Homo sapiens: one gene and its partners. The protein of the gene in region 6 purifies or fractionates together with the protein of the main gene of each other region. This does not show direct contact. Each region holds a gene or a part of one and is shown on either strand. Other genes may lie near its edges. The genes, in order: SMC1A, CTPS1, KIAA1191, PTER, GAB2, SNX3 and ZC3H6.

Region 1 (3,622 bases), on a different chromosome or scaffold from region 6:
TAGCTGCTCCATCACCTGGTTCAGCTCCTTATTGATTTCATCAATACGCCGCTTGGCCATCTCCACCTCCTCTGTCAGCTCCCCCTCTAGCTTCTTCTGCTCTTCTAGGGACTGCCTACAAAGTGAGGGCACACAGGAGTTACTCCTGCTGGTGAGAAAATACTCCTGGCTCAGAGAGCTCTGGGGGTCCTGCATGAAGAGGGGCATGTAGGTAGGGTCACAAGAACAGGCCTGGAAGTAAGGGGGACAGATGCAGAGCTACATACTTGCTAGTGGTGATGTATTCCTCCAGTTTCTCAATCCGCTTCTGATTCTCTTCAATTTCCCGCAGCTTTTGCTTGATCTTGGCCTGGGAAACAAACATTCCATCATCAGGGGCTGCACGAGTTTACGCCAAGACCATGGGGGCTCTAGATCACACCCTTTATGTGCCCACTCATCCAAGAGCCGAACAGTCCAGGACAATCTGTCACTAATATAGGAGGCCTACTAAAAAGCAGACATAGATGGTGTTCGGTTTGATCTACTAACTAATGATGGGGGCCTCCCAGAGCTCCAGAACCTCTCATAGGTGTTCTACCCAGCCAAGGCATCTTCTTCACCAACCATGGAGGCTCAAATCAAGATAAAGCTTCACAGGCCTTTCTGTACCTGTTTCCTCATCTGCAAAATGTGGGTAATCTCCACTGCATAGAATACACATTAAGTGCTTAATATAGGGTTGTTATTAATATTAATGACTATCACATTATTTTTAAAAAATTTTTATTATTTTTTAAAATTTGAGACAGGGTCTCACTGTGTTGCTCAGGCTGATCTCAAACTCCTGGCCTCAAGTGATCCACCACGCCTGGCCAACATTCTTTTAAATATTTAAAAGTGCTTAGCAGAATGCCTGAACACTGTACACTCCTGGGACACTATGACAACTTTCTATCATTGCTGTTATTACAATATTGATATCAGGGAGGCAGTAAGTAAAGTATATTTGGTAAGAGTGTGGGCTTTAGAGCTACAATGCCCAGGGTCTGGTTCTGATACTTAATAGTTATGTGAGTGGCCGGGCACGGTGGCTCGCGCCTGTAATCCCAACACTTTGGGAGGCCAAGGCAGGCTGATCGCAGAGGCAGGCAGGAGTTTAAGACCAGCCTGGGCAACAAGCAGAAACCCTGACTCTATAAAAATTAAAAAATTAGGAGGCCGAGGCGGGCGGATCACTTGAGTTCGGAAGTTCAAGACCAGCCTGGTCAACATGGTGAAATCCCATCTCTACTAAAACTACAAAAAATTTAGCCAGGTGTGGTGGCACCCACCTGTCATCCCACCTACACGGGTGGCTGAGACACAAGAATCACTGGAACCGGGCTGGGTGCGTTGGCTCACACCTGTAATCCCAGCACTTTAGGAGGCCAAGGCGGGTGGATCACCTGAGGTCAGGAGTTCGAGACCAGCCTGACCAACAAGGTGAAACCCCGTCTCCACTAAAAATACAAAAATTAGCCGGGAATGGTGGCTGGTGCCTGTAATCTCAGCTACTTGGGGAGGCTGAGGCAGGAGAATTGCTTGAACTTGGGAGACAGAGGTTGTAGTGAGCCGAGATGGCACCATTGCACTCCAGCCTGGGCAACAAGAGAGAAACTGCGTCTCAAAAAACAATAAAAATAAAAATAAAAAAATAAAAAGAATCACTTGAACCCGACAGGCAGAGGTTGCAGTGAGCTGAGATCATGCCACTGCACTCCAGCCTGGGCAACAGAGTGAGGCTTTGTCTCAAAAAAAAAAAAAAAAAAAGTAGCCAGGCATGGTGGCAAGCACAAGTAATGCTGGATACTCAGGAGGCTCTGGTTGGAAGATTGCTTAAGCCTGGGAAGTCGAAGCTGCAGTGAGCCATGGTCGCACCACTGCACCTCAGCCTGCATGACAGAGAAAGACTCTGTCTCAAAAATAACAATAATCTTGTGACCTTAGGCAAATTACTCTGTGTTGTAATTTCCTCATTCATAAAATAGGGTAATAGTAGCCATTCCATAAAGATAATAATAAATGAAGAATTAAATGAGTGGATACATGTAAAGAACATTGCCTATCATACAGTAAGTGCTCAACAGATGTGAGCTACTGTCATTATCATTGTCATTATCATTAAGATTATCATGGCCAGGCGCAGTGGCTCAAGCCTGTAATCCCAGCACTTTGGGAGGCCGAAGTGGGTGGATCACAAGGTCAGGAGCTCGAGACCAGCCTGGCCAACGTAGTGAAACCCTGTCTCTACTAAAAATACAAAAATTAGTTGGACATGGTGGCGCACGCCTGTAGTCCCAGCTACTCAGGAGGCTGAGGCAGGAGAATTGCTTGAACCCGGGAGGCAAAGGTTGTGGTGAGCTGAGATCACATCACTGCACTCCAGCCTGGGCAAGAGCGAAACTCTGTCTCAAAAAAACAAAAAAACAAAAAAAAAGACTATCATTACAGGTTGGGTAACTCTAATCCAAAATGCTTAGGACCGGAAACGTTTCAGATTTTGGATTATTTTGGATTTGGGATGCTCAACCTATATATATCCTTTTCTGTGGACCATCATCCCTAATCTTATAACTATAGCCCACCTCTGTCTCTACTTTCTTCCGTTCTTCCAGATCCAGACGGTCCTGGTCAGCTTTCTGGTCTCGATTGAATTTCTCCAGCTCCTGGGCCAGGGTAGCTGCTCTCTTGCTGGCTTCTTCTTTCAACCGGTGGTATTTCTTCACCTGTGTTAGGGACAGGGAAGGAGAACAGGGATGACCAAGTCAGCAGATGTCAGCCCAGGGATCTCCTCCCTGCCAACCCCTTCCAGAGCTTACCTGATTCTCCTCCAACGTCAAATCTCTGCCCTGACTCTGACTCTCTTCTTCCATCCGTTCTTCAAACTCCTGCCGAGCCTTCTCCACTGACAGCATCTCCTTCTCCAGCTCATCCATGTCACCTTTACGCTTCTTGTAGTGCTTCTGAGCATTCTGCAGAGACTTCTTGGCTGCTTCCAGCTTCTTGATTTTGTGGGAGGTGTTCTCCTTGGCTTTGATGTACTGAGGCCGCTTCTGGTTCAATTCTGAGTCCTTCTCCCTTTTGCCAGAGGGGTGGGGGAAACCAGTGAGAACTATGGAAGAAGGGAGGGTTCCCAGGCTTTTCACCCAAAGGAGAGCTTGAGCCCCTGAGCCAACCTCAGGGAATTACTTAAAAGAACATGGGCGTAATGCCCCACAGATCCTGAAAAAAAGGGGCAGTCTGACTACTCCCTGAAAGGTATGACTTCAGCCTGGCATTCCAGCCACTCCATAAGGCAAAGCTACCAACTCTGCCTCAACCCTGGCCAGGAAGCTCATTAACAACTCCCAAGAACATCCTGTATTTACTTAGTTGGCCCCTCAAATTCCTATCCTTTAAACTTCTAGCTTCAGTTTCCTCTTCTAGGAAGGCCTTCTCAGCCACTCCATTGGCTCGGCCTCACATTGGTTCCTCTTTCTTGGCAAGGCCACCACCCCTTTTGAGTTCTCCCTCATCTGAGCACCTGTCTACCCAGGGCCTGAGTGCTTAAATATTCTATTTGTCTAAACTGCAAGTCAAGAAATGTGCCTGGTTCTTACAA
Region 2 (4,178 bases), on a different chromosome or scaffold from region 6:
AGTGTGAGACCCTGCCTCAAAAAACCCCCACAAAAAACAACAAAAACACACCTGGGAAGAATATAACGGGAATAGCTATTATCTGAGTTCTGTGTACAGACCAGTAAAGAGGAAGTAATTTTCAGATCAACATGGCAGGCTTTGTAAAGAAAAATTTTTTTTTTGTTTTTGTTTTGAAACTTACAAAGAGTTTCAACGTCTCACACAAATTTGCCTACAAAAAATTTTTTTCATACCAAAGACCAAAAAAAATAACAGACATAGACAATTCACAAGAATTAATGGGGTGAAGGCAAGTGTCAAACAAATTATGGGACATTCACAAAATAGAAAAGTCCACACTCATTAAAAGTTTTCATTGTAAAATATAATAACAGAGCAAAATGCTTATAATGTTTTATGAAAAAGGATGATAAAACTGCCATTCTGATAGCTATATGTAAGCAGACAAAGACTGAAAGGAAAATGTTGAAATGAAAAATGATTCTCACAGAGCAACGGAATGAGTATGCCCTCTCCAAATGCTTCTAGGCCATCATATTGATCTTGCAACTAAGATAAGGCCTGCCCATTGCTCTAAGACACGAAGTGAAGATTTCTGAAGGAATGTGACAGCATCACCGAGCCTTAAAAGGATGTAGTGGAGTAGGCAGCAACACATCCCCGTCCTAATGTGATCCCTTTCTGGTGTGGGGTGAGACACATTCCCAAACACAGCTCAGAACTCTGGAGTGGTACCCAGGAGTGCTCCAGCCACTGTCAGCCATTCGTGTGGGCTTTGGATATGCACACTCACCCGCTGCCACCAGGACGCCCATCTGCACTGATCTAGTTGGTAAGAGACAAGCGTGTTAAGACATAACCCGAACTCATTGTCTGGAGGCCCGGCACCTGGCCTGGCCCTATCAGGATCTCCTCATCTGTGCCACAGCTACGTGACAGCTAAGATCCTTTCTGAACATCTCTTACTACAAAGGCTCTTCTAATGAGTGGATGGCAGAAGTGCAAAAGTACAAAAGTGCTAGGGCTAGAGTCGGCTTCACCAGCCCTACAAAAGAGTAAAGGAGGCTAGCACTCCCAGCTCCTCATTGCAGGCAAACCTGTCAGCCATCTCTTTCCATTTCATCAGCATTTTTCTTGGCTGCCTCTCAATAGGAAGGTCAAGTCTTCGAAGAAAATAATCTACAACCCCTTGCTCCTCTAACAACAAGGGGACTCGGTAGATGGATGAGACATCGTGGACACAGATCACCTGTTTAGAAAAAAGCAAGTTATTAAATAAAAGCAAAAACTCACCAGGCTTACAGCCTCCTACTAGCTACGTGACCTTGTAAAAATATTATGTATTTGAAAACAGAAAAAAGGACAATTTTCTAGATAAACTACTAAAACAGACTCAAGAATAGAATAGAAAATTAGTGGCCAATCTATTATGAACATGGATGCAAAAGTCCTTTAAAAAAAATTCATGGCTGGGCAAGGTGGCTTATGCTTATAATCCTAGTACTTTGGGAGGCCATGGCAGGAGGATTGCTCGAGCTCAGGAGTTCAAGACCAGACTGGGCAATATGGTAAAACACTGTCTCTACAAAAAAATACAAAATTTAGCCAGGCATGGTGGGCATGTGCATGTAGTCTCAGCTAACTGGGGGGTAGCTGAGGTGGGAGAATCACTTGAGCCTGGGAGCTTGAAGCTGTAGTGAGCTGAGATTGTGCCACTGCACTCCAGTCTGGGTGACAGAGTGAGACTCTGTCTCAAAAAAAAAAAAAAACACCCAAAAAATTAGCTGGGTGTGGTGGCATGTGCCCATGGTCCCAGCTACTCGGGAGGCTGAGGTGGGAGGATCACTTGAGCCTGGGAGTTGGAGGTTGCAGTGAGCCAAGATCGCATCACTGTACTCCAGCCTGGGCAACAGAGCCAGAACCTGTCTTAAAAATAATAATAATAATAATTCATGATCCAAATCACAAATGTAGCTTTAAAAAAATCATGTCCACGAACCTATGAATGGCTTAACTAGGAACAGTGGTTCTCAAACTCAGCTGCATATTGGAATCATTCAGAGCTTATAAAAGGTCAAAAGCCCATGCTGCACCCCAGACCACTTGAATTAGGATCTTGTGGGGTAGGAGGCAGGCATCAGTATTTTTAAAGCTCCCCAAGTGATTCCAGTGTGCAGTCAAGTTTGAGAACTACTGTGTTAGGAAATTTAACAGTGGAATTCACCACATAAATAGAAAACAGATTAAGGAGGAAAACAATTCCCTCAGTAGATGTAGACTTGATAAAAATTCAAAACCAAATTCATAATAAAAATTATTGGTAAATTAAGATTAGGGAAAATTTGGCAATATAAAAAACCCACAGTAAACATCACATGGTTTAATATTAATGTTTACTATTTAAAGTCCAGAACAAGGCCAGAATGGCCACTTTCAGTACTTCTATTCAATGATGTACTGAAGATATTAGCCATTATCATTAGATAAGAAAAAAAAATGAACCAGAAAACAAGAAGCGGTTGCCACTGAATAATGCATACAATATCACTGCTTATCCATAAAAACCAAAAGAATTTACAGGTAAACAATCAGTACTAATAGAATTTTAGTAAGGTTGCTAGGCTGTAGATGAATGGACAGAGGTCAGCAGGGTCTCCTACACATGGGGTATTATCTAATCAGAAAATATAATTTTTAAAAATACACGGTAGTAATAAAAATTATGAATAGCTATAAATAAGTCTAAACAACTTTATGAAGATTAGTAAATCTATAATGTACCTTTATTTTTAAAAAGTACAGAATAGTATCCAAGGATAGTCTTTTCAACAAATGGGGCTGAGGCAAGTAGATATCCACATGTAAAAATTTCAACCCTTACCTCACACTACACACAAAAGTTAACCTAGAATGGATCATGTAAGACCTAAAACTAACTTTTACAAGAAAATCTTCATGACCTTGGTTAAGAGCAAGGAGTTCTTAGACACGACAGTGAAAGCACAATCCATAAAAGAAAAAAACAGATTGGACTTCATCGAAATTTAAAAGTGTCTGTGCTCTAAAAGACACTATTAAGAAAATGAAGGCCAGGTGCGGTGGCTCACACCTGTAATCCCAGCACTTTGGGAGGCCGAGGCAGGCAGATCACCTGAGGTCAGGAGTTCGCAACCAGCCTGGCCAACTTGGCAAAACCCCGTCTCTACTAAAAATACAAAAATTAGCCAGGTGTGGTGGTGCATGCCTGTAGCCCCAGCTACTCAGGAGGCTGAGGCAGGAGAATCGCTTGAACACGGGAGACAGAGATGGCAGTGAGCCAAGATCATGCCACTGCACTACAGTCTGAGCAACAGATCAAGACTCCATCTCAAAAAAAAAAAAAAAAAAAAAAGAGAGAAGAAAATGAAAAGACAAGGCACAGATAGGGAGAAAATATGTGAAAATCACATACCTGATGAAAGACTTGTATTCAGACTATATCAAGTCAACTCAGTAAGATAAACATTCCAATTAAAAGAGTAAGTAAGGCTGGGCATTGCCGGCTCACGCCTGTAATCTCAACATTTTGGAAGACTGAAGCAAGAAGACTGCCTGAGCCCAAAGAGTTCAAGACCAGCCTGGGCAACCATAGCAAGACCTCATCTCTACAAAAAATAAAACAGCTGAACATGGTAGCGTCCGCCTAAGGTACTAGCTACTCAGGAGGCTGAGGCAGGAGGGCTGTTTAAGCCCAGGCTGCAGTGAGCTGTGACAGCACCACTGCACTCTAGTCAGGGTGACACAGCAAGACCTTGTCTCTTAAAAAAAAAAGGCAAGGCCAGGCGTGGTAGCTCACACCTGTAATCCTAGCACTTTGGGAGGCCAAGACGGGTGGCTCACCTGAGGTCAGGAGTTCCAGACCAACTTGGCCCGCATGGCAAAACACCATTTCTACTAAAAATACAAAAATTAGCTCGGCATCGTGGCAGGTGCCTATAATCCCAGCTATTCGGGAGGCTGAGGCAGGAGAATCACTTGAACCCAGCAGGTGGAGGTTCCACTGAGCTGAGATTGCTCCACTTCACTCCAGCCTGGATGAAAAAGTGAAAACTCCATCTCAAAAAAAAAGCAAAAAATCTGAAACTTAAACTTAAATGTGGAAATACTTGTTACATTTTTAATAGTGAATATTTTTA
Region 3 (4,178 bases), on a different chromosome or scaffold from region 6:
TTTTTAAATCTCCCTCCTTTTTTTTTTCTTTTTAATTCAAAACTAGAATGGCCTTGTCTGCTCCTGAGACTCTTCATATTCCCCACAGAGCTAAATCCAAGCTCAGCATGATCCACAGTCCATGTGATCTAAGTCCTGCCTGCATCTCTCCAGCTCCCCTACCCAGTGCTTGAACTGTGCAAGTTACCTAAAATTCTTGCACTTAGCAGCGTATTTTCTGCCTGTCAGTTTTTGGCTCACACTGCCCTGATTGTTTAGGATGTTTGCCATCCACATCCTGTCCTCTCACCTTTTCTCCCACTCCATTTGCCTGAAAACTGGTATCCTTTAAGTCTTAGCTCAAAAGTCTCTTCTGTGACAGTTTTCCTGACATCTCCGTCCTCCTGATAAGGCCATCACCTCTCCCTCTGAGCTCCCCACGGTACCATGGTCCCCGTCGTCATCCCTGCATTGCTTTCTCGCCCTCCATTAGCTTCCTGAGGACAGGGGCCATGTCTAGGTTTGTACTCTTATCTGCAGGATCCAGCCGATGGCCTGGCATAGATTCCCAAAAACTGCTCATTTTGTGATTGGGGAAAAAAATTGGCCCTTTCTTGAACACATGCTGTACCTGTCCTCATGCTGTACCTCCAGCCTCAGCTGCCTTTGCCCATGGCCATCCTCTGTAAGAACTGCCTCCTTCCTAAGGCCCTTCCGAACATACCTCACAGTCCTTCGTGCAGTCTAGTTTCGTAGGTTCGCATTATTGGAGCCTCTGCTTCCCGACCTCAGGGACTCTCTCCCCTCTGACTCTCCAGCCACCAAGAATACAAGAAAGGCTAGACTGTTGCCTGAATAAAGTAGGCCCGCCAAGTTCACGTAAGGCTGTTTAACCTGTAGCTACAGTTTCTCTGAACTTTGAGCCACATGGTAGCTCAGGGCCTGACAGGCAGTACACAGTAAGGGTCCACTGAAATAGGCCTGGGTGTGAGTCCCAGGTGGTCTGCCCTAGCAAGACCTTGGGCACACAACTTTACCCTGAGCCCCAGTGTCTCTCTCTGAGAGTTGGGAATACCTTATGTCATAGAGGTGTTGTGGGGATTCAGTCAGGGGATGTAAAGGGTTGGCACATTGTGTATTAGCTGTGTAGCTGATATTATGACTGCAGGCTCCCTGCTTAACTTTCTCTTAGTAGAGCCATATTTGATAATTTCTAAGGAGTGTTTTTCCCCCCGCCTCCAACAGACTTTCAGGGCAGACAGCTCCTTTCTAAGAAAGTGCCCCTACAGCTCTGGGGGATATTCCCTCTATCAATTATCTACTGAAATATGACCCAGTCAGTTGTTCAGGGAGAGTATTCCATGTAACAAGTAGCAAAAGTGCAGGGAGAAAAGGCCTGCTGCAGCTTGCCTGTGATGTCAGAGCAATGGGCTTTAGGGTCCAGAGCAGGAGGTGAGCAGGGCTTCTGGTGGTGCTTGCCAGGCCACACACCCTGCTGATGGCTCCACAAGGCAAGGGATGAGCGGGCTTCCAGATTTCTTCTGGGCCTCAGCTGGAACAGCTGATGGCTTGGAACAGCTGCTCCAAAGGAGAGCTCCGCTTGACTCATTGCATGCGATCCTATTCATTTGCCCTAACTCTCCCCATGTTAGGAATCAACCGTCTTCCCAGTAAGGAAACAGGCTCAAGTTTTACTCAAGGTCACAGCTTAAAGGTATAAATTCTGTTTTGTAGTAAGGATACAACATTTTTCATTACTTTTTATCTGTCCCCCCTTTTCAACCATCTTACTTTCTTCTCAGTTCTTCCAGACAAGCACAGAATAAAGAATAAGTCTTGTTCTCTCCTCCCTGCTAGGCCTGAGCAAGGTATCAGGTGTTTCGATTGCAGAAGGTGGAGGCTGCCAGCTCTTGCAGGTTGAAAATGAGGAGCTAAGTAGATTTTTTTTGTTTGTTTCAAAAGACCATTACTTGAACCTTGGGAGCAGTGGTCCTCAAGGTGTGGTCTTGGGACCGGCAGCATCAGTAACACCTGGGAATTTATTAGAAAGAAATTCTTGAACTCCACCCCAGACTAACAGGGACCTACTGAATCAAACTCTGAGGTGGAGCCCGGCAGTCTGTTCTAATGGCTGGCACAGGGTCAGAACCACTTAGCCAGTGCTCTCATCAATTAAGATCTAGCATAGTGCCTGGGATGTGGTCAGTGCTTCGTAATAAGCATTTCTTCTGCATTCTTAGGGCATAGTACTATAGTATATCGGAAGATCATAGTCTGGGAAGGTAGTAGACGTCAGAGCTTCAAATTCTGGCTTTCCCACCTTTATAAATGTAAACTATTCACCTAATGTCTTTCTTTGTTGTCTCTATGGATAATACCTATCTAGCTGGGTGGAGATGACCAACTCCTCCCTTCAATGATTTCCTCACTTACCAGATTAATGTTATTTCAGTAACTTCCTCCCCAAAGGAGTAAGTTTAGGTGTGTGACTCCCCTGCCCTGCCTAAGTGCTTCTGTACTGTACCTCTCTTGAACAGGTGGAGGAAGGAGAGGCCAGTCTACCCTCCCCTGCCATGACCCTGTCATCAGCCATTGACAGTGTGGACAAGGTCCCAGTGGTGAAGGCTAAAGCTACCCATGTCATCATGAATTCTCTGATCACAAGTAAGCACTCTTCACCCTCAGAGTAGAGTGCCATAGGGGCAGGGAAGAGTTGAGGCTTCCTACAAGCTGATTGGAGATGATACTGCAACACGCTCGCCTTACCTTATCCTAAAAAATGTCAGTTTGGCTGCTGAATCATGTCAGTATTGAAGCTCCATTTATTAAGTGGAAGATTTGCCAAATGTTAAGCATCTTATCTGATTTAGGTGCATTCCTGCTGCTTTGTTGATATGATCTCATGTTCCCAGCTCTGTCACTGTGGCCTTGGGCAAGCTACTTAACTACAGAGACTGCCCCGCTCTAAAATGGGGAATTTCACTGGCAGGTTGAGGTGAGGATCAGAAGGCCCAGTGCTCAGTGGCGGCAGCTGCTGCTGTTACTGTTTCAAGCTCTGCTGGAGAAGGGGAAACATCCGGGCATTTCCCACTTACCCCAGTTTTTGTTTTTTTTTTTGTTTTTTTTTTTTTAAACAGCTCAAAGTTGGTCTACCAGGAAGAGGACCAGGTCCAAGTGTCTTTAGTCTTAAGAATGTATGATTGGTCATCCTAATGAAACCTGATATGAGAACTTGGATTTTTTTTTAACCTTATAACAAGCTAACTAAACTTCTTCATTCTGGAGGGCTGTACAGGTTGCTGTGGGAAGTTAACAATTAGATACATGGCTCTGTTTGTCAGCAGTTGTGCCCCTACCAGGGTAAGGTACATAGAGGTTCTCCTTGGTTGGCTCATTTTTGAAGTCAGAAGCCCTTGTTTATCTTCTCCAGGAGGGCATCAGTTTGTCCTGGGCAATTCCTAGTGAATTCACCAAGAACCAAAGGTCCAGACTCTTACTTTGGTTTCTCTTCTTTTTTTTTTTTGTTTTGAGACAGAGTCTCACTCTGTCACCCAGGCTGGAGTGCAATGCTGTGGTCTCAGCTCACCACAACCTTCGCCTCCCAGGTTCAAGCAATTCTCCCACCTCAGCCTCTGGAGTAGCTGGGACTACAGGCGCCCACCACCACGCCTGGCTAATTTCTGTATTTTTAGTAGAGATGGGGTTTCACTCTGTTGGGCAGGATGGTCTCAAACTCCTGACCTCGTGATCTGCCCGCCTAGGCCAACCAAAGTGCTGGGATTACAGGTGTGAGCCATCACGCACCACCTATACTTTGATTTTCTTATTCACATCTGTTGAATCAGCAACACTACTTTTATTTTACAAGCTTGAGAATGTGTTCTAGCAGTGTTACAAAACTTATTCATTGTTCTTTTAGCACAATGTAACTTTTTTTTTTTTTTTGAGATGGAGTCTTGCTCTGTCGCCCAGGCTGGAGTGCAGTGGCACGATCTCGACTCACTGCAAGCTCCGCCTCCCGGGTTCACGCCATTCTCCTGCCTCAGACTCCCGAGTAGCTGGGACTACAGGCGCCTGCCACCACACCCAGCTAATTTTTGTATTTTTAGTAGAGATGGGGTTTCACCTTGTTAGCCAGGATGGTCTGGATGTCCTGACCTCTTGATCCGCCCGCCTTGACCTCCCAAAGTGCTGGGATT
Region 4 (4,178 bases), on a different chromosome or scaffold from region 6:
ATGTATAGTTACCACTAAAAGTGGTTGGAAGAATATATAATCCTCATCATCAGCATAGTCTTTAAACAACAAAAATACATTAAAAAAATAAAGTCCTGGTTGGAAAATAATGCAGAAAAAATTTTGAAATACAAAATACTCCAGAGAGTAAGTGATCTTTTGCAAAGAATGAGCTGACACCCTATGCCTGTCATGCAGGCAATGGAAGATACATACGAATATATACATATATGTGTAAACATGTATAAATAGATACATGTGTGTTTAGAAAGAGAACACATACACGTGCAAAAAAGGTTTTGCACCTTATTCTTTTTGTCCCTAAACAATTTACTTCCTTCTGCCCATTCTTAAGACCATATTATGACAAAACACAGGGGAATGAATTTTCTTCCACCTCTCCTGTTTTGTGAAAGGAAACTGAAACATATTCACAAATGTGCCAAGTCTTTGACTGCCAAGTTTCACCCTACAGTGAATCTTCATTGCTGGTTATTATAAAATCCAGGGTGAAAAAAAATCGAGGTAGCATAACTTAAGATGGAAAAGTGAGGTTTACAAATAGACTGTGGTGCCAATACTGAGGACAGATACGATACACACAAATCTAACTATTATCACGTTGGATTTTGCAATGACCAGTGCACTAAGATCTCTTTCCTTGACACTTATTATTATTATTTTCTTTTTTCTTTACCACAAGGCTTGCTTGCAAAATTGGCACTTTCTTTATGAAATACAGTGTTACTAACTGGGGCCCCAACTGGCAGATGTCTTTGCTAGCTAGCAAATTTCCGTAGCATGCCCAGCTACCTCTGAACCCAGGGCATTTCCAAGGTTCTGGCTGTTCTGAATTTATGAACAAATACTGTCAAAGAACTTAGGCTTTTTACCTGCTCCACTGACATGGCCCTGGTCTCTGAGGAGTGAGTTGCATCCACATAAAACCCGGCTCCAGATATGATATGGACGCCAGTCTCTTCTGCAAGCCTCTTCAACGTCTGTGTGTCTCGGCTAATCCCAGTGGTTGTGTTTTCCACCAAAGCCCCTCCACCATTAGCTTTAAAATACAACAGTTCTTCCTTTATGGCTTCTGTCTCCTGATTTAATTGAAGGTTTTCTTTATGGGAATAGGCGTTTTTCTGAATCCAATATAAATTTTTCATCACGATAGGTTCTTTGGAAATAGCTTCCTGGCACGGGGGAGGTGGACAGTAACAGCAGTCAAAGGTCATGGCCAGGTGTTCATGGGTCAGGGTACGGCCCAGTTTGCTTGGCTCTACAAGGCCCAAAACGGTTTGGACTTTTCCACTTAAGGAAGACATTTCTGATGGTACCACCAAGAGATGTTCTAAAAAGAGGATTTCTTTTTTCTAAAAACAAACAAACAAACAAACAACTACAATCAGAATATTTAACACACACATAAACTCTTGTCCGTAAGGGGTGGGAGGCTGTGAACATATACCCATGTAAGAAGGCAAATCAATAAAACTAGAGATACGATCTCACAATCCTGCCGACTTCAGAATCTATCCCCACTGCAGATCTAAGTGACGTGCGTGGTGTTAATTGCCTCCCACCCCTTCTACTGGGAGTCCTCTGCCTGAGTTAGTCCTAACCTTATCTACTGGAAATATTCTTTGATATTCAGTTCACTTTTCTTTAACTTAATTGTATCTCTTAATCATAGCTATGCATTCTTGGATAAATCAACAGTAATTGTAATTAAAAAAAAGTATTCAGAATCAATAACTTACATCCAAACTAACCATGTATCAGTACTGTTTCATTTGTCACTTTTTAGCTAAATTAAATATCCTGAAGCAACTGATCTTTCCTCCTTTTTTTTCTTTTTGAGGGAGAGTCTTGCTCTGTTGCCCAGGTTAGAGTGCAGTGGTACGATCTCAGCTCACTGCAACTTCCGCCTCCGCCTCCTGGGTTCAAGGGATTTTCCTGCCCCAGCCTCCTGAGTAGCTGGGACTACACGCATGTGTCACCAAGCCTGGCTAATTTTTGCATTTTTAGGAGATGGGGTTTCCCTATGTTGGCCAGGCTGGTCTTGAACTCCTGACCTCAGGTGATCTGCCTGCCTCGGCCTCCCAAAGTGCCTGGATTACAGGTGTGAACCATCACTCGTGGCCACAACTGATCTTTCTACTGTTCCTCCACTACCCAAGCAAACAAATTTCTGTTGAAGGTCCATGATGTGTCAGAAATTAGAGCCATAAAGAAACAAAAGACAAGATCTCTGACTCACACGACTTCATAGAATATGCCCCTCCCCAAAACAACTGAGGAGCACACTCGGTTGAATAATGAAATAACAACAAGAAACGAACCTCTTCAGGTTGAATGCTTGATTGTCTAGGGCACACAGAAACACACTTCAAAAATACTGAAAAGCAAAGATTCTTAGCCATAATGAAAGCGATTGTGATTTATTGAAACTGAAATCGGCTATCTCTAAAAAGAGCAAAGCCCTCTCTATCCTCGATTTGCTTTCATTTGTAGCACAAATTAAGTGTTCACCAATGTCTATCAGTGATACCAAGAACTCCAATTCCAGTACTTTCCTTTAAAAGTACATTTCCTTTTAAAAAATTTGTTTAAATTAAAAATTAAATGGCCAGGTGCAGTGGCTCATGCCTATAATCCCAGCACTTTTGGGAGGCTGAGGTGGGAAGATCACATAAGGCCAGGAGTTTGAGACCAGCCTGGCCAACATGGTGAAAACCCGTCTCTACTAAAAATACAAAAATTTGCCAAGTGTGGTGGAGCGTGCCTGTAATCCTAGCTACTTGGGAGGCTGAGGCAGAAGAATTGCTTGAACCCAGGAGGCGGAGGTTGCAGTGAGCCGAGATCGCGCCACTGCACTCCAGCCTGGGAAACAGAGCGAGATTATGTCTCAAAAAAAAAAATTTTAAGTACATTTCCTAAATGAAGGGTTTATAAAGGAACAAGAGCTACTGAAAATAGTGAGGACAAACTCCTGCATGGCCAAGAGCAAAATCAGGACTCGAGTCCCAGACTCTGGGAACTGAAGAAAAGGAGCATCACGTGTTTCCAAGCTCTCAAACTGTTCCTTCAAATAGTGTTCTGAAGTCATCATTTCCCCCATATCCCTTGAAAGCCTTCTTTGACTTCCATTTTTGTCATCTGTAAATTAAAATAACGAAGCACATTTCATAGACTGTCGTAAAAATAAATTAGATACCACAGGTAAAAATACCTGTAGATGCATTTGGCACGCAGACCATATTCAACAAATAGTAGCTTTGTTTTGCGAATTCTAGGAACTATTCACGTATATCCTAGATTATTTCTTTTCAGAGAAAGTGGCTGATGAGAGGGGAGATGATTTGGGGGAACAAAGGGGAAAATTTGTGAAGGGTATAGTACACACGTAAGACAAGGTGAAAACAACATCAGAGGTCAGAGGGTGACAGAATTGTAGGCCAATTTATAGCAAGCCACTGCAATTATCTGGAACTCAGGTGTTTGCGATATATTGGCTTATAAGGCATAAATGATGGATTTAGACTTTTGGACAGAACTTAGGACTTGTGGCTAACATGGCCATTGATTTTGTTTGATAGTGCCTTTCTGGAAGCCAAACTTCTATCAGCTAGGCAATTCAAATGGTGGCTAAGAGAAAAGCAGGCAGTGTCTCTTCAGAGAATCACCACACAGCTGCCAGGCACTATACAGGGCAATATTTTCCAATGATGATGGATAGGAATTTACTGTTCAGTGTCTTATTCCTTGCTACTGAGAGCAAGGAGTGTGTAGTTCATGCCTTCCGTTGATGAAATCACAGTACCATTAATAATAGATGCAAGCTTCCATATGGGTTAATTTGCCGTTTCTTTCCTTCTGGCTGACCATCTTACAGACGTGTTCCAGAGAGTCACAGAGGGGCAGAAACTGAGCTAAATTGATAAAATGCTACCACTTTTGCTAGAAAAGTACCAAACTGCATATTCAATTGATGCATATTTGAAAGAGCAATGTTGGTACGTTTCAAGCTCACAAGCTGTGAGTCTTTCTGAAAAAAAAATCACTTAAGAAATGTCATCCCTTCTGGGAGATTCCTCTAATGCTCTCAGGCAGAACTGGCTGGCACTTCCTATGATCACACACAATGTAACCTCCACTCAAAGGATAAGAAACGATTA
Region 5 (4,178 bases), on a different chromosome or scaffold from region 6:
TGGGAAGCCAAGGTGGGAGGACTGCTTAAGCTCCGGAGTGTGAGACCAGCCTGGGCAACGCAGGGAGACCCTGTCTCTACAAATAATAAAAAAAAAAATTAGCCAGGCACAGCAGTACGCAGCTGTCGTCCCAATTACTTGGGAGGCTGAGACAGTAGGATCACCTGAGCCCAGGAATTTGAGGCTGCAGTGAGCCATGATTGTGCCACTGTCGCCAGCCTGTGTGACACAGCAAGATTCTGGTGGGGGTGGTTGGGGGGGGGGATGGTGGAAGGAGAAGAAAATAAACGAAGGAAGAAAGACATATATAAATAAATGTAAAATAAATTCATGGACTGGAAGATTTAATATAGTAAAGCTGTAATTTCTTCCCAAATTGGTACACAGGATTAATGCACTTCCTATTAAAATCTCAGCAAGACTTTCTTTTTTTTGCATAAACAAGATTATTCTAAAATTTGTATTGAAAGGTAAAGATAATAGAATAGCTAAAACACTTTGAAAAATAAGAATAAAGTAGAGGAATCAGGCTACCAGATTTCAAGACTTACAATATAGCTAGAGTTGGCAAGATTCTATGGTATTTGCAGAGGGACAGACACATGGAAAAATGGACCAAAACAGAGACAACAGAAACAGACCCACACAAATACGTCCAACTGATTTTTGACAAAGACGGAAAAGCAATTCAATGGAAGTAGGATGGCTTTGTCAACAACAATGACAACAACAAAAGAACCTCAATCTAAGTCTCACATCTTACATGAAAATTAACTCACAGTGGATCACGGACTTAAAGGAAAAACATAAACCTGTAAAATGTGTAGAAAAAAAAAAACCAGGAAAGCCGGCGCAGTGGCTCACGCCTGTAATCCCAGCACTTTGGGAGGCCAAGGTGGGCGGATCACGAGGTCAAGAGATTGAGACCATCCTGGCCAACATGGTGAAACCCTGTCTCTACTAAAAATACAAAAATGAGCTGGGCATGGTGGCGCACACCTGTAGTCCCAGCTACTCAGGAGGCTGAGGCAGGAGAATCGCTTGAACCTGGGAGGCAGAGGTTGCAGTGAGCCAAGACTGTGCCACCGCACTCCAGCCTGGGTGACAGAGTGAGAATCTGTCTAAAAACAACAACAACAACAACAACAACAACAAAGAGAATCACTTGAACCTGGGGAGCCGAGATCATGCCATTGCACTCCAGCCTGGGTAACAAGAGCAAAACTCCATCTCAAAAAAAAAAAACCTATATATAAAATACTCAAATTCTTGAAGACATTTGACCAAAGAGGATATACAGATGGCAAATAATCATATGAAAAGATGTTCAACATCATTAGCCATAAGGGAAATGTAAATGAGAACTAACGGGTGAATGGTTAAATAAACAGACTGTGTGGTACATCCATACCATGAAATACTACTTAGCAATAAAAAACAATAACTATTGATGCATGAAATGAGGATGAATCTCCAGAGAATTATGCTGAATAAAAAAAAGTTCAAAATCTTAAGTACTGCATGAATCCATTTAAATAACACACATGAAATATCAGAGAACAGATTAGTAGTTGTCACAGATTAAGGATGTGGTAGGGGTGGGATGGTAGTGAATACGATTATAAAAGGGCAACATAAAAAATCCTATCATGATGGAAATGCTCTGTATCTTGACTGTATCATTGTCAATATACTGTTGTGATACTGTACTATAATTTTGCAAGATGTTACCATTAAGGAAAACTGGATAATGGCTACATAAATCTTTGTTTACTATTTCTTACAACTAGATGTGCATGTAGAATTACCTCAAAATGAAATGTTTAATTTTTTTAAAAAGCCCAGGCTTTAGGACAAAGCTAGATGACTTTGGGTAAGTTGCTTCCCTTATTATAGGGCTAAATTACTACATTAAAAGATCAATGGTCTAAGCATAGTGCCTGGTACAAAGTAAGTGCTCAACAGATGGCTACTAAAATAATCCTAAAAGTCATGGCAGTGGGGATGAAGAAGCGTATAACAAGATATTTAGATGATACCACTAATGGGTTTTGGTGACAGATTAGATGTGGGATAGTGGGTGACGGGGAGTCAAAGATGATGCCCAAGTTTCTCATCTGAGCAAGTAGGTGCTTAGTGGCACTGTTTACTGAGCAGATGTGGAGTGAAGAGATGAACAAAGAAGAGTTTAGTTTTGGAAGTGGTGAGTTTGTGTTGACTGGGAAACATTCAAATAGAGATGCCCAGTTAACAGTTGGATATGTAAGTCTGAAGTTCAGAACACAACTCTGAGATGGAAATTTAACTTGATGACCACCATGCAAATGATAACTGAAGCCAGTAGAATGGACAAGGTTGCCAAAGGGGAGAAACCACACAGCCACTATGACTATAAAGGAGCTTCAACCTTTAAGGACTGGATAAAAGGGTCAGTCTAGCAAAGGAAATATAGAGTAGCCAGAAAAGGAGAAATAACAGGCATTTATAGTGTCAGCCAAGATAAGAGGAAGGTGTTTTAAAAAAGAGTGGTCAACTATGACCAAGCAGTGAAGAGATTAATTAAAATGAGGAGTAAAAAATCATCCTCTGAGTTTAGTGACCTGGGTATCGCTGGTGCCTTTGTCAGAATAGCTTTGGTGAATAACAAAGTAGGTTTCCACTGGAGCCGACTGAGAAGAAGGTGGGAGAAAGGAAGACTGCATAAACCACCACCAAGTTTATCCCTGAAAAAAAGTAGGTAGTACAGAGAGGGAAAGAAGTTGAAGATGTGTTACAGGATAAGAATTATTTGAGTAGGGAGGAGAAGATATGATTCAAAGTATAAGTAGCAGGATTAGCTCAGATAGAAGTGGCACTTCATCTACTCTAAGAAAAGGAAACAAGAAAGGAACCATGCAGGCTGGGCGCGGTGGCTCATGTCTGTCTGTAATCCCAGCACTGTGGGAGGCCGAGGCGGGTGGATCACCTGAGGTCAGGAGTTCAAGACCAGCCTCACCAACGTGGTCAAGCCTCATCTCTACTAAAAATACAAAATTAGCCAGGTGTGGTGATGCATGCCTGTAATCCCAGCTACTTGGGAGGCTGAGGCAGGAGAATCGCTTGAACCCAGGAGGCAAAGGTTGCAGTGAGCCCAGATCGTGCATTGCACTCCAGCCTAGGCAACAAAAGTGAAACTCTGTCTCAAAAAAAAAAAAAAAAAAAAGGAAGAAAGAAAGGAACTATGCAGATACAAGTAAATTTGAAAATGTGGCCATTCATCGTACGTACAGACAACTACTCCCTCATCATTTCAATTTTCCTTTGAAGGAGAAGGCAAAGCCATTGCTAAGACTGAAAGACTGGATTAATTTTTTTTTCTGTTTACTGGATTTTTATTCCAAGCACCTGATCCAGTGCCTGGGACATAGATTTAATAAGTATATTTAATAAATATAATGGAAATAAACAATTACTGTTACCTTAATGCAGTAGTTCTTTACAATTTGTGCACAACTTTCTTCAAGTTAGCCACTAGGGGGTAGTCTGCCAATCTTATTCCCTCAATCTTTTAATCCAGTGAAATTGATAGAAAACTACAATGCAGTGTAGGTCATATTAATAAAATGTTTTTCCTCAAGAAAATTCTGTTTAATAATTATATACATGTACGTGTGTATGCATTTGCATGCACGCGCATACACACACAAATACACTGAGGCACGATGGGAGGGTTGTTACTTCTGCCGGCCTCCCACTGCAGCCATATCAGGATGCCCCAGAGGCAATAGTCAGCATTTTCCAGAGACACTTTTTGCAATTTCTCCAGGGCACTCAGTAAATAGCAGATAGGTCTCTTATACTTATACTTAATTAACTAGAAAAGGCTGATGAAAAAAATCCCTGAAAACTAATTGCTCAAACATTTGCCTTTGCTTCTTCTAAGATGTTTTTCCCCTCTACACCTTCCCGTCTTTCCGAATTAAGTAAGTTTTTTTGTTTTTCTTTGAAATGGAGTCTCGTTTTGTCACCCAGGCTGGAGTGCAGTGGTACGATCTCGGCTCACTGCAACCTCAGCCTCCCGGGCTCACGCGATTCTCATGTCTCAGCCTCCTGAGTAGCTGGGACTACAGATGCCCTCCATGACGCCCAGCTAATTTTTATATTTATGGTAGAGACGGGGTTTCACCACATTGGCCAGG
Region 6 (4,178 bases):
TGGTGAGACAGGGTTTCACCATGTTGCTCAGGCTGGTCTTGAACTCCTGAGTACACGCAATCCATCTGTATTGGACTCCCAAAGTGCTGGGATTACAGGCATGAGCCACCGTGCCCAGCCAAAAAGATTTTAAAATGTGCAAATTATCACAAAGTTTGTAGGAGACAGAAATGACTTAACATAATAACTAATGCCATACCCTACCAAAAATACTACTCAACACTATATATTCTCTTAGATTATATTCTGTCCGTTAATTCAGACTTTGAACTAATTAGCACAGAATTTGCATAGAACTAAAAAGTGTTTTACAATTGGAAGAAAAAAGTTAAGTGCCACCTGAAGGAAAGACTGGCTTCCTACTGTGTATACAGGGACATCATCTTGTAATATTCACTCCTAAGAAAGTTCTACTTATTTGTTAAGCTTAATGCTACTGGTAAGTAGCTGTCACTCAGCACAAGAAAAGCTTTTAATTCAGGCCCTTAAATCCATTTTGTAGTGGTCTCAATTTTTTCCTAAGTGTATTAACTTCTCTATGTTGTATACCTTACAGCTCAGAATTTTCAACAGATGCTATTGGGCATAACAGTGTATAGGTTTCAAGCATGAAACCAAATCTCACAAGAGATTTAAAAGCACTTGAATTTTCTTTCCCAGGTAACCACAACATTTGTTCATTGTATAAATGACTAAGGAAAAAATTGCACCTAACAAGACTCTTATTATACTAAAAGTCAAGCTTATATTTAAAGATGCTGGCTTGTTGTACAGAGGGTATTCTCATTCCCCACAGGGAATAAAATTAGGTCCCCTGGAGAGTAGAATAATTCCCAGAAAGAAAGCACTGGATTATTTCTCTCTAATTTCACCTATTGGCTTTTTAACCAAGTTCACCCTTCCGCATTAAAATATTAAGTCTTTGTAAATGCCTTAAAGATAAAAAGGCCTTTACAGAGTTGAGTGTTTTCTGCAGGTGAGATTTTACATTCTGAATTCCCTCCTCTCAAATTACTTTACAAAGGGGATTAACTGCTCTCTTTATTCAAATACGTTAAGATCAAGCTTGCGAAAAGAGTCCCCTAAGAATTTTCATACTTCTGGGTACGGAAGTCTATAAAGTTAATCTCTGAAACAACATATCAAGCTTACAGGTACAATGTTGAGAGAAGAGTGCCAATTCAGCTCATTTTACCTTCCATTTTCCCTTTTGAACTTTTGACACAATCATGATTATATCTGATTCACTCTAACAGAAAGGGGAGGGGTGAGGGGGAAAAGTACTTTCCCTTCTATGATTAGCTAATAGTTTGATAGTTTATATACTTAAATTTAGAGGACCATGATTAGCTTAAGAAAGTTCCTTTAGTTTTCTTAACTGGTTATGATTTCTCTTTTTGCATGAGGACTGCTTTAGAGTTTAAAGTCACATCAAGAAATTCAAACATCACTTGCCCATTACATATGCAGTGGTTAACTTAGCCTGTTAAACGTCTTCCTCATCATTACAAGGATTTGTAATTCAATGTAACTGATTAAAATAACTAAGTGCAAAATGTGGGTTTTTTTTTTTTGTTGTTGTTGTTGTTTAAGGTACTGAACTATCACTGCTGAAACTCCTGTGATTGGTCACTTTCAATTTATTTAACTTTCATAAAATGATTGAAGGGCGGAGAGGTTTTTTACCTACAGCTTCAGGAGGACTAAACTATTATTTACTGATCATCTATAAAAGGGCACCATGCTAGATAAGGGAGAATCATTATTTATAATGATGAATAAGATGCAGACCTGGCCCTTATGAAACATACACCAATCAAGGTTAGAAAATAAGCATATAAAAAGTTGAATTTCCATGGTTAAAAATACTACAAACTGGCTGGGCATGATGGCTCAAGCCTGTAATCCCTGTACTTTGGAAGGCTGAGGTGGGAGGATCACAGGAGTTTGAGACCAGGCTGGGCAACATGGTGAGACCCCCATCTCTACAAAAAATAAAAAATTAGCTGGGCAGGCTGGGCGTGGTGGCTCATGCCTGTAATCCCAGCACTTTGGGAGGCCAAGGCGGGTGGATCATCTGAGGTCAGGAGTTCGCGACCAGCCTGGACAACATGGTGAAACCCTGTCTCTACTAAAAACACAAAAATTAGCCAGGCATGGTGGCGGGTACCTGTAATCCCAGCTACTCGGGATGCTGAGGCAGAACTGCTTGAACCCGGGAAGCGGAGACTGCAGTGAACCAAGATTGCGCCACTGCACTCCAGCCTGGGCAACAAGAGCGAAACTCTGTTTAAAAAAAAAAAAATTAGCTGGGTATGGTGGCACATGCCTGTAGTGGGAAGATAAGGTGTCAGGATGGCTTCAGCCTTCGAGGCTGAGGCTGCATGAGCTGTGATCACATCACTCACTGTATTTCAGCCTGGGTGACAGAGGGAGACGGTCTCAAAAAAAAGGGGGGCATTTTGGTGAATACATTATCCATTACTCTATTAAATACACATAACTTTTGAATGAACAATTTCAATGGGAATTAATCCTACAAATATTTCCACACATACAAAAATATTTTAGCATTGTAATAGACACAAAAAAAAACCCCAAAAAAGACCAGAAACAATAAATCTTACATTACAAGCTTATATTACACAGCTTTTTACAAAATATAACTCAGCCATAGGTTAATCAGAAAAGCTGTCTAGAATGTATGACATGTAAAAAGTTTCAGGCTGGGTGCGGTGGCTTATGCCTATAATCCCAGCACTTTGGGAGGCTGAGGCGGGTGGATCACTTGAGGTCAGGAGTTCAAGACCAGCCTGGCCAATACAGTGAAACCCCATCTCTACTAAAAATACAAACATTAGCCGGGTGAGGTGGCACGAGCCTGTAATTCCTGCTACTCCGGAGGCTATGGCAGGATAATCGCTTGAACCCGGGAGGCGGAGGTTGCAGTGAGGTGAGATCATGCCACTGCACTCCAGCCTGGGCGACAGAGCGAGACTCCACCTCAAAAAAAAAAAAAAAAAAAAAGTTTCAGAACAGTATATTATATAGCATAATACCATTTGTATAATATGAAAAGCACGGAAGAATTGACAATTGATTTGGCCCGGATTCATTCATTCTTTCCCCTCCTTTTCTTTCCTTTCCTCAGTCTCTCTGCTTCCCCTCCCTCTCCCCCTCCCTCCCTCCCCTTCCTTCCTTTAGAGACAGGGTCTCCCTAAGTTGCTCAGGCTGGTCTTGAACTCCTGGGCTCAAGGGATCCTTCCACCTCAGCCTCCCAAAGTGCTGGAATATGAGGTGTGAGCCACTGCGTACGGCCAGTCAGGACTCTTTTTCGTTTTGTTTGTTTTTGAGACAGAGTTTCGCTCTTGTCGCCCATGCTAGGGTAAAATGGCGCGAGTGCAATGGCCTCAGCCAGGACTCTTTTAACACAGAGCTAGCCATACTATAAGACAGCTGAAAATGGTGAAAATAGTGTGAGCTAAATGCAGAGAAGAAACAAGTACAGTGTATATTTAGTATATAATTCTTGAATATTCTAAAGCATAGGGAATGATGGGAAATAAAACTGAAAAGTTTAAATTGCACTCTAAATATGGGGCTAAGGTGACTACCTGTGAGCATCAGGAGTTAATAAATATGTTTGAATAGAAAAATGATAGCTATGAACAGAAAAAATAGAACAGAGAAGTTACTACAGAAGTAGAAGCCACAGATGAGCTGCATGTAGCATTAAGGTGTAGAATTAAGAACAGATGGCTCTAGTTGATTCCTAGGTTTATCTGCTTTGAAATGTATGGACAAGAGTCAGACTACTGAGGCAAATTACAGCAAAAATCCCTTAAAGGTTTTATCTTGGATGCCACTTTAAATGCTCTAGATTTACCCAGAAAGAATGCTGAATTCTGAAATTAAATGTAAATCAGGCTTAAATATTGTTAACTTACTTTAAGATGACTAAAACTTTTGAAATTTAAACAGCAAGATTTAGTATTCTCTCACTCTAATATTCATATTTTCCCCCTAATTTTAAGAGAAGTTGCTTAGTATCAGGCTGAGTATAAAGTGGAAGCCACAATTTTCTTCCTAGCTACTGTTCATTTTATTTCTTAACAGGTAAAAGTGTTAAATACAACCATCTGTATGAAATAATATTTGTAGGAAATACAAGAAATATG
Region 7 (4,178 bases), on a different chromosome or scaffold from region 6:
ACAAGAGAACAGAGTTCTCCGGCCGCTCTGAACTGATGGCATGACCTGGTGAATTCAAGGTCACCCACCTGTGAGGTTCTTTTTGGTAGCCAATCTGTCCAGGTGAAAACTTAAGAGTCATAAACCTAAAATGTCTACCCTAGTGAGGCAGATCTCCTAAATAAGTGAGGCACACCTTGAGTGGTGAGTTTGCCAAGAAACTATGAATGATAAGACTGTGGAGTGTAGAGCACAAGTCAAGCCTTAAATGCTTTCAAATACAGATATTTTAAGATATTCTGTCAGGCAAAAACAACAGTATAGGCAGATTTTAGGCCTGAAGCCCACCAGTTTGCAAACCCTGCAGCACCCTTTCATTCAAACCTTAAAATATTTTAACTTAGGATAATGTACATCCTGTGACCTATTTTTAACCTTTATTTTTCTTTACTGCTCTGTGACTATCCCTTCTTTTCTCCTCCCTTGGTTTCCAAAAACTTCTGTGCTCTTCTCCATACCTCTTGACACACATACCTTGAGTGGTATCATTCATTTCAACTAACATTTCAATCAGCTAAAAATTCCAGATATTTATATCCAACTCTATCAATGCTAAGAAATACCTCATGAATTGTGCCTACTTTCTCATTGCCAATGCCTTTGGTCAAGTCCTCATCTGATTTCTAGACGTTTACAATAGCTTTGGTTCATTCTATTCTCTCATTGTCCACATCCAGCCACCAGTAAATCCTATTGGTTCTAAAACCAATCAAACCATATCCACAATCCAACCATTTTCACCTAAACCATCATCATCTGTTACCTAAATTACCACAGCAGTTCCTTTTACTATTCATTTACCTCATTTACCATACTACTCACTTACCATATACCATAGAGGATCCTGTCCCTCCTCTGTTTAATCCCCCATTAGCTCCCAGGTCACTCAAGAGTGAAATCCCTTGTGTTTTCCTCAATCATACCAGGCTCATTCCTGGTCCAGGCTTTCTCTACCTCCCACTCCCTTTATATGGATGCTCTTTCCTCAAATGTCTTGGGTCTGAATTGTTGTCTTGTATCAGGGCTCTTTGCTCAAATGTTACTCTTTCATAAGTGCTTCCCTAAACACCCTCCCCACATCCACTTGACTCCCCATCTCCCTTTCTGCTTTATCACCATTGAACACATCTGTTTTTCATGTTTATTTTCTGTCTCTCCCAAGAAAATATGTTTCATTACACCAAGTTTTTTCTTTATTGCTGTATTCCTGATCCTAGAACAATACATATTAAGCTTCATGTTTAATGAAAATGACTGAAAAGCTTCCTAACTTGTCTTCCTTCTACTGATCTCCCCTTCTGTAGTCCATTTCCTCCTATCCCCCAGGTAGTATACCAAAAAATGCATCTGATCATTCTCCTGCTTAAAAGACTTTGATGGGATCCCCACATCCTTCAGGGTCTGGCCCCAAATTTAATCCGTTTCCCCATTCCCCAAAATAGTTGTACACTCTCCACATACTAACACTTTTATCATCCCTGAACCTACTTGTGCCATTTATCCATGCTTTTCGTGTATCTCTGTATTTACTTGGCCAAAGTTTTATTCATCCTCCAGGTCTAGTTATGCCATGATGTCTCCCAGAAGCCTTCATCTGTGTACCCCCACAGCACTCAGTTCAGGCCTCCATTATAGTACTTGTGCTATACTATGTATTTACCAATCTGTTTCTGCAACTAGATTATAAGATCCCAGAGAGCAAGTTCATGATGTTGTGTCCAGAGTTCTTTTGTCAGTGCTTAACACTATACTTAGCAGAGACGAAACACTGTTAAGTCTGAGGAATGAAAATGTAATGAATGAAATTTTATAATGAATGAAATATTTGTTTATGAGAGGTTGGGGGAAAAAAAGAGTCTTCCTGAGAGTCAGAGTGCTTTACAACATCAAACCTGAGACCTGATACGAGGTTTTACATTTGCTAAAGAAAAATTTCCTTTAGTAATTTCAACAATAGTTAAATTAGTGGATTCAGGAATCAGAAGTAAGTTAATGGCTAGTCAGGAAAGTTATTTACTCCACGGAACATACTAATTTACAAACCAGATATTGTGTGGAGCAAAAAGTGTACTCTAATCTGAGAAAAGGCATCTGCAATTTTTTTAATTAAAATTGATTTAAGTGGGAAGGAAAATTGAAAATGATCTAGTGCAACTACTTCATTTCACAAATGAAAAAAATAATGAAAAGGGGAAGAGCATTAACCCAAGTTAGAAGATCAGGATCAGTACCAAGGTTTTATTCAAAATGAAGGGCTCTCTCTCAAATGTAGCACATTACAATTCCAAACTACTCAAGGATTAAAGCCCAGAACTTATTCCATTACTTTGCTGTGCAAACTTAATGAAGAGTGAAGATAATATTGCAAGTAGGAAAATAATATTGCAAGACTGAAAATAATAATACCTGGGTTCTTATCTAGGTTGTATTTATGAGATCTCAGACAATTCACTGAACCTTGTAATGCTACCTTAATTAACTACCACATGGGATTAATGTGAGAATCAAATGAAAGCCCTGTTGCAAATGAAAAGTATAATCATCTTTTCCATCCTCATCCTTTCAGGTTCTCCAGTGCAGTCTCTTAGCAAGTTTTCAATCTATATGGGGGGCCATAAACCACTTGCAATTCTGACTAGTTGGAGTTTTGTTGTTCTTGTAGTACAGGACAGAAAGCTGCGAGGGAAGGGTGGGGAGGTTGTTTATGTATTATAAACCTCCTCCCAAAGGGGAGTATTATCCATATCACCTATCAGTTAAAGACTCTTTGAGACTCACAAGCTCTTAAAAGGTTCATGCTAAAAAATTATCTTTTTCCCCAGTACAAGCCCTACAAAACCTTTTACCATTAGTATATTTCAGAAAATTCTGTAACAATTACTTGGGTTATATTTATCTTTTCCTACTCTACTACAGATGTGTCCAAAGCAGGGACTCATAGTATTTCGTCTTCAGGAGTTGTGAATTGTTTTAATTGGGTCAACATCCAGTTGAAATATAAAACTGAGCGGCTGGAGTCGTGCCTGAGAGAACTGAATGAAAAAGAACTGAACGACGAGAGACCAGAATTATACCTCCCTCTGATTTCCCTAAATCCCTAAAGACCTTTAGAAACTAGGCTCTGGGCTTATGCAAAAGTCCTCTACTACATTCTACATAGCCACAAGTAGAATTAGAAGTATTTTTATATTAATAACATCTTATAAAATACAATGTTTTAACTCCAGGTGTGAAAATATTTAAAGGAAAGTACACTAAATGGATTTTTTTTAAATTATTCATTTGGCAAACAATCTTGTGCAAAATGTTCACTATATAACATGTACAAGGCCAGGCGTGGTGGCTCACGCCTGTAATCCCAACACTCTGGGAGGCTGAAATGGGAGGATGGCTGGAGCCCAGGAGTTCAAGACCAGCCTAGGCATATAGCGAGACTCTATTTCTTTAAACGAGAAAAAAATTATGCATTCTGTGAATTCCATTTACATTTAGAATCTCATTCTCATAAACAGTAATATTTTAATTTGTATAAAATCAAAGCAATTGTAAATATAAATCATAGGCTTCATTTTTTTTCCTGCATACACAATATGCCTTAATTTTTGAAAATGTTATAAAAAGAATATCCTTGGCTGGGCACAGTGGCTCACCCCTGTAATCCCAAAACTTTGGGAGGCCAAGGCTGGTGGATCACTTGAGGTCAGGAGTTCAAGACCAGCCTGTCCAACATGATGAAACGTGGTCTCTACTAAAAATACAAAAAATTAGCCAGGTGTGGTGGCGGGTGCCTGTAATCCCAGCTACTCAGGAGGCTGAGGCAGGAGAATGGTGTGAAGGCGGGAAGTGGAGCTTGCAGTGAGCTGAGACAGTGCCACTGCACTCCAGCCTGGGCGACAGAGCGAGACTCCGTCTCAAAAAAATAAAATAAATAAAATAAAATCCTTGAGACAAAGCCTAGCTCCATATACCAAGTTTCATATATTTTTCTCCACTTAATTCACAGAAACTTTTATAACAGCATAAAATAGCTATTATATGGAAAGATACAGTATTTTGGAAGCCCGCAGATTAGTCCATTTTTTCCCCAAATTTCTTAAGAATTTCCCAGGGAGCCTATGAAAAATACCCTAGAGATTCTG

What was found.
Region 1: the proteins of SNX3 (region 6) and SMC1A purify together in Homo sapiens (affinity purification with mass spectrometry; one large-scale study listed by BioGRID and IntAct). This does not show direct contact.
Region 2: the proteins of SNX3 (region 6) and CTPS1 purify together in Homo sapiens (affinity purification with mass spectrometry; one large-scale study listed by BioGRID and IntAct). This does not show direct contact.
Region 3: the proteins of SNX3 (region 6) and KIAA1191 purify together in Homo sapiens (co-immunoprecipitation; one large-scale study listed by IntAct). This does not show direct contact.
Region 4: the proteins of SNX3 (region 6) and PTER purify together in Homo sapiens (affinity purification with mass spectrometry; one large-scale study listed by BioGRID and IntAct). This does not show direct contact.
Region 5: the proteins of SNX3 (region 6) and GAB2 purify together in Homo sapiens (co-immunoprecipitation; one large-scale study listed by IntAct). This does not show direct contact.
Region 7: the proteins of SNX3 (region 6) and ZC3H6 fractionate together in Homo sapiens (co-fractionation; one large-scale study listed by BioGRID). This does not show direct contact.

The regions. Positions count from the first base shown.
Region 1 is NC_000023.11:53,409,155-53,412,776, forward strand, and holds part of SMC1A (structural maintenance of chromosomes protein 1A), read right to left. Parts: intron 3,100-3,622; coding exon 2,841-3,099; intron 2,748-2,840; coding exon 2,607-2,747; intron 350-2,606; coding exon 267-349; intron 116-266; coding exon 1-115. UniProt on the Homo sapiens protein: Involved in chromosome cohesion during cell cycle and in DNA repair. Central component of cohesin complex. The cohesin complex is required for the cohesion of sister chromatids after DNA replication.
Region 2 is NC_000001.11:40,992,991-40,997,168, reverse strand, and holds part of CTPS1 (CTP synthase 1), read right to left. Parts: intron 1,253-4,178; coding exon 1,101-1,252; intron 1-1,100. UniProt on the Homo sapiens protein: This enzyme is involved in the de novo synthesis of CTP, a precursor of DNA, RNA and phospholipids. Catalyzes the ATP-dependent amination of UTP to CTP with either L-glutamine or ammonia as a source of nitrogen.
Region 3 is NC_000005.10:176,351,087-176,355,264, reverse strand, and holds part of KIAA1191 (putative monooxygenase p33MONOX), read left to right. Parts: exon of another isoform or gene 1-1,693; intron 1,694-1,836; exon of another isoform or gene 1,837-2,516; coding exon 2,517-2,643; intron 2,644-4,178. UniProt on the Homo sapiens protein: Potential NADPH-dependent oxidoreductase. May be involved in the regulation of neuronal survival, differentiation and axonal outgrowth.
Region 4 is NC_000010.11:16,481,532-16,485,709, reverse strand, and holds part of PTER (N-acetyltaurine hydrolase), read right to left. Parts: intron 2,573-4,178; exon of another isoform or gene 1,776-2,572; coding exon of another isoform or gene 1,761-1,775; intron 1,374-1,760; coding exon of another isoform or gene 1,326-1,373; coding exon 894-1,325; intron 1-893. UniProt on the Homo sapiens protein: N-acetyltaurine hydrolase that regulates feeding by catalyzing the hydrolysis of N-acetyltaurine into taurine and acetate. N-acetyltaurine has anorexigenic and anti-obesity effects that are dependent on GFRAL receptor and GDF15.
Region 5 is NC_000011.10:78,410,906-78,415,083, forward strand, and holds part of GAB2 (GRB2-associated-binding protein 2), read right to left. Parts: intron 1-4,178. UniProt on the Homo sapiens protein: Adapter protein which acts downstream of several membrane receptors including cytokine, antigen, hormone, cell matrix and growth factor receptors to regulate multiple signaling pathways.
Region 6 is NC_000006.12:108,226,254-108,230,431, forward strand, and holds part of SNX3 (sorting nexin-3), read right to left. Parts: intron 1-4,178. UniProt on the Homo sapiens protein: Phosphoinositide-binding protein required for multivesicular body formation. Specifically binds phosphatidylinositol 3-phosphate (PtdIns(P3)).
Region 7 is NC_000002.12:112,278,110-112,282,287, reverse strand, and holds part of ZC3H6 (zinc finger CCCH domain-containing protein 6), read right to left. Parts: intron 1-4,178.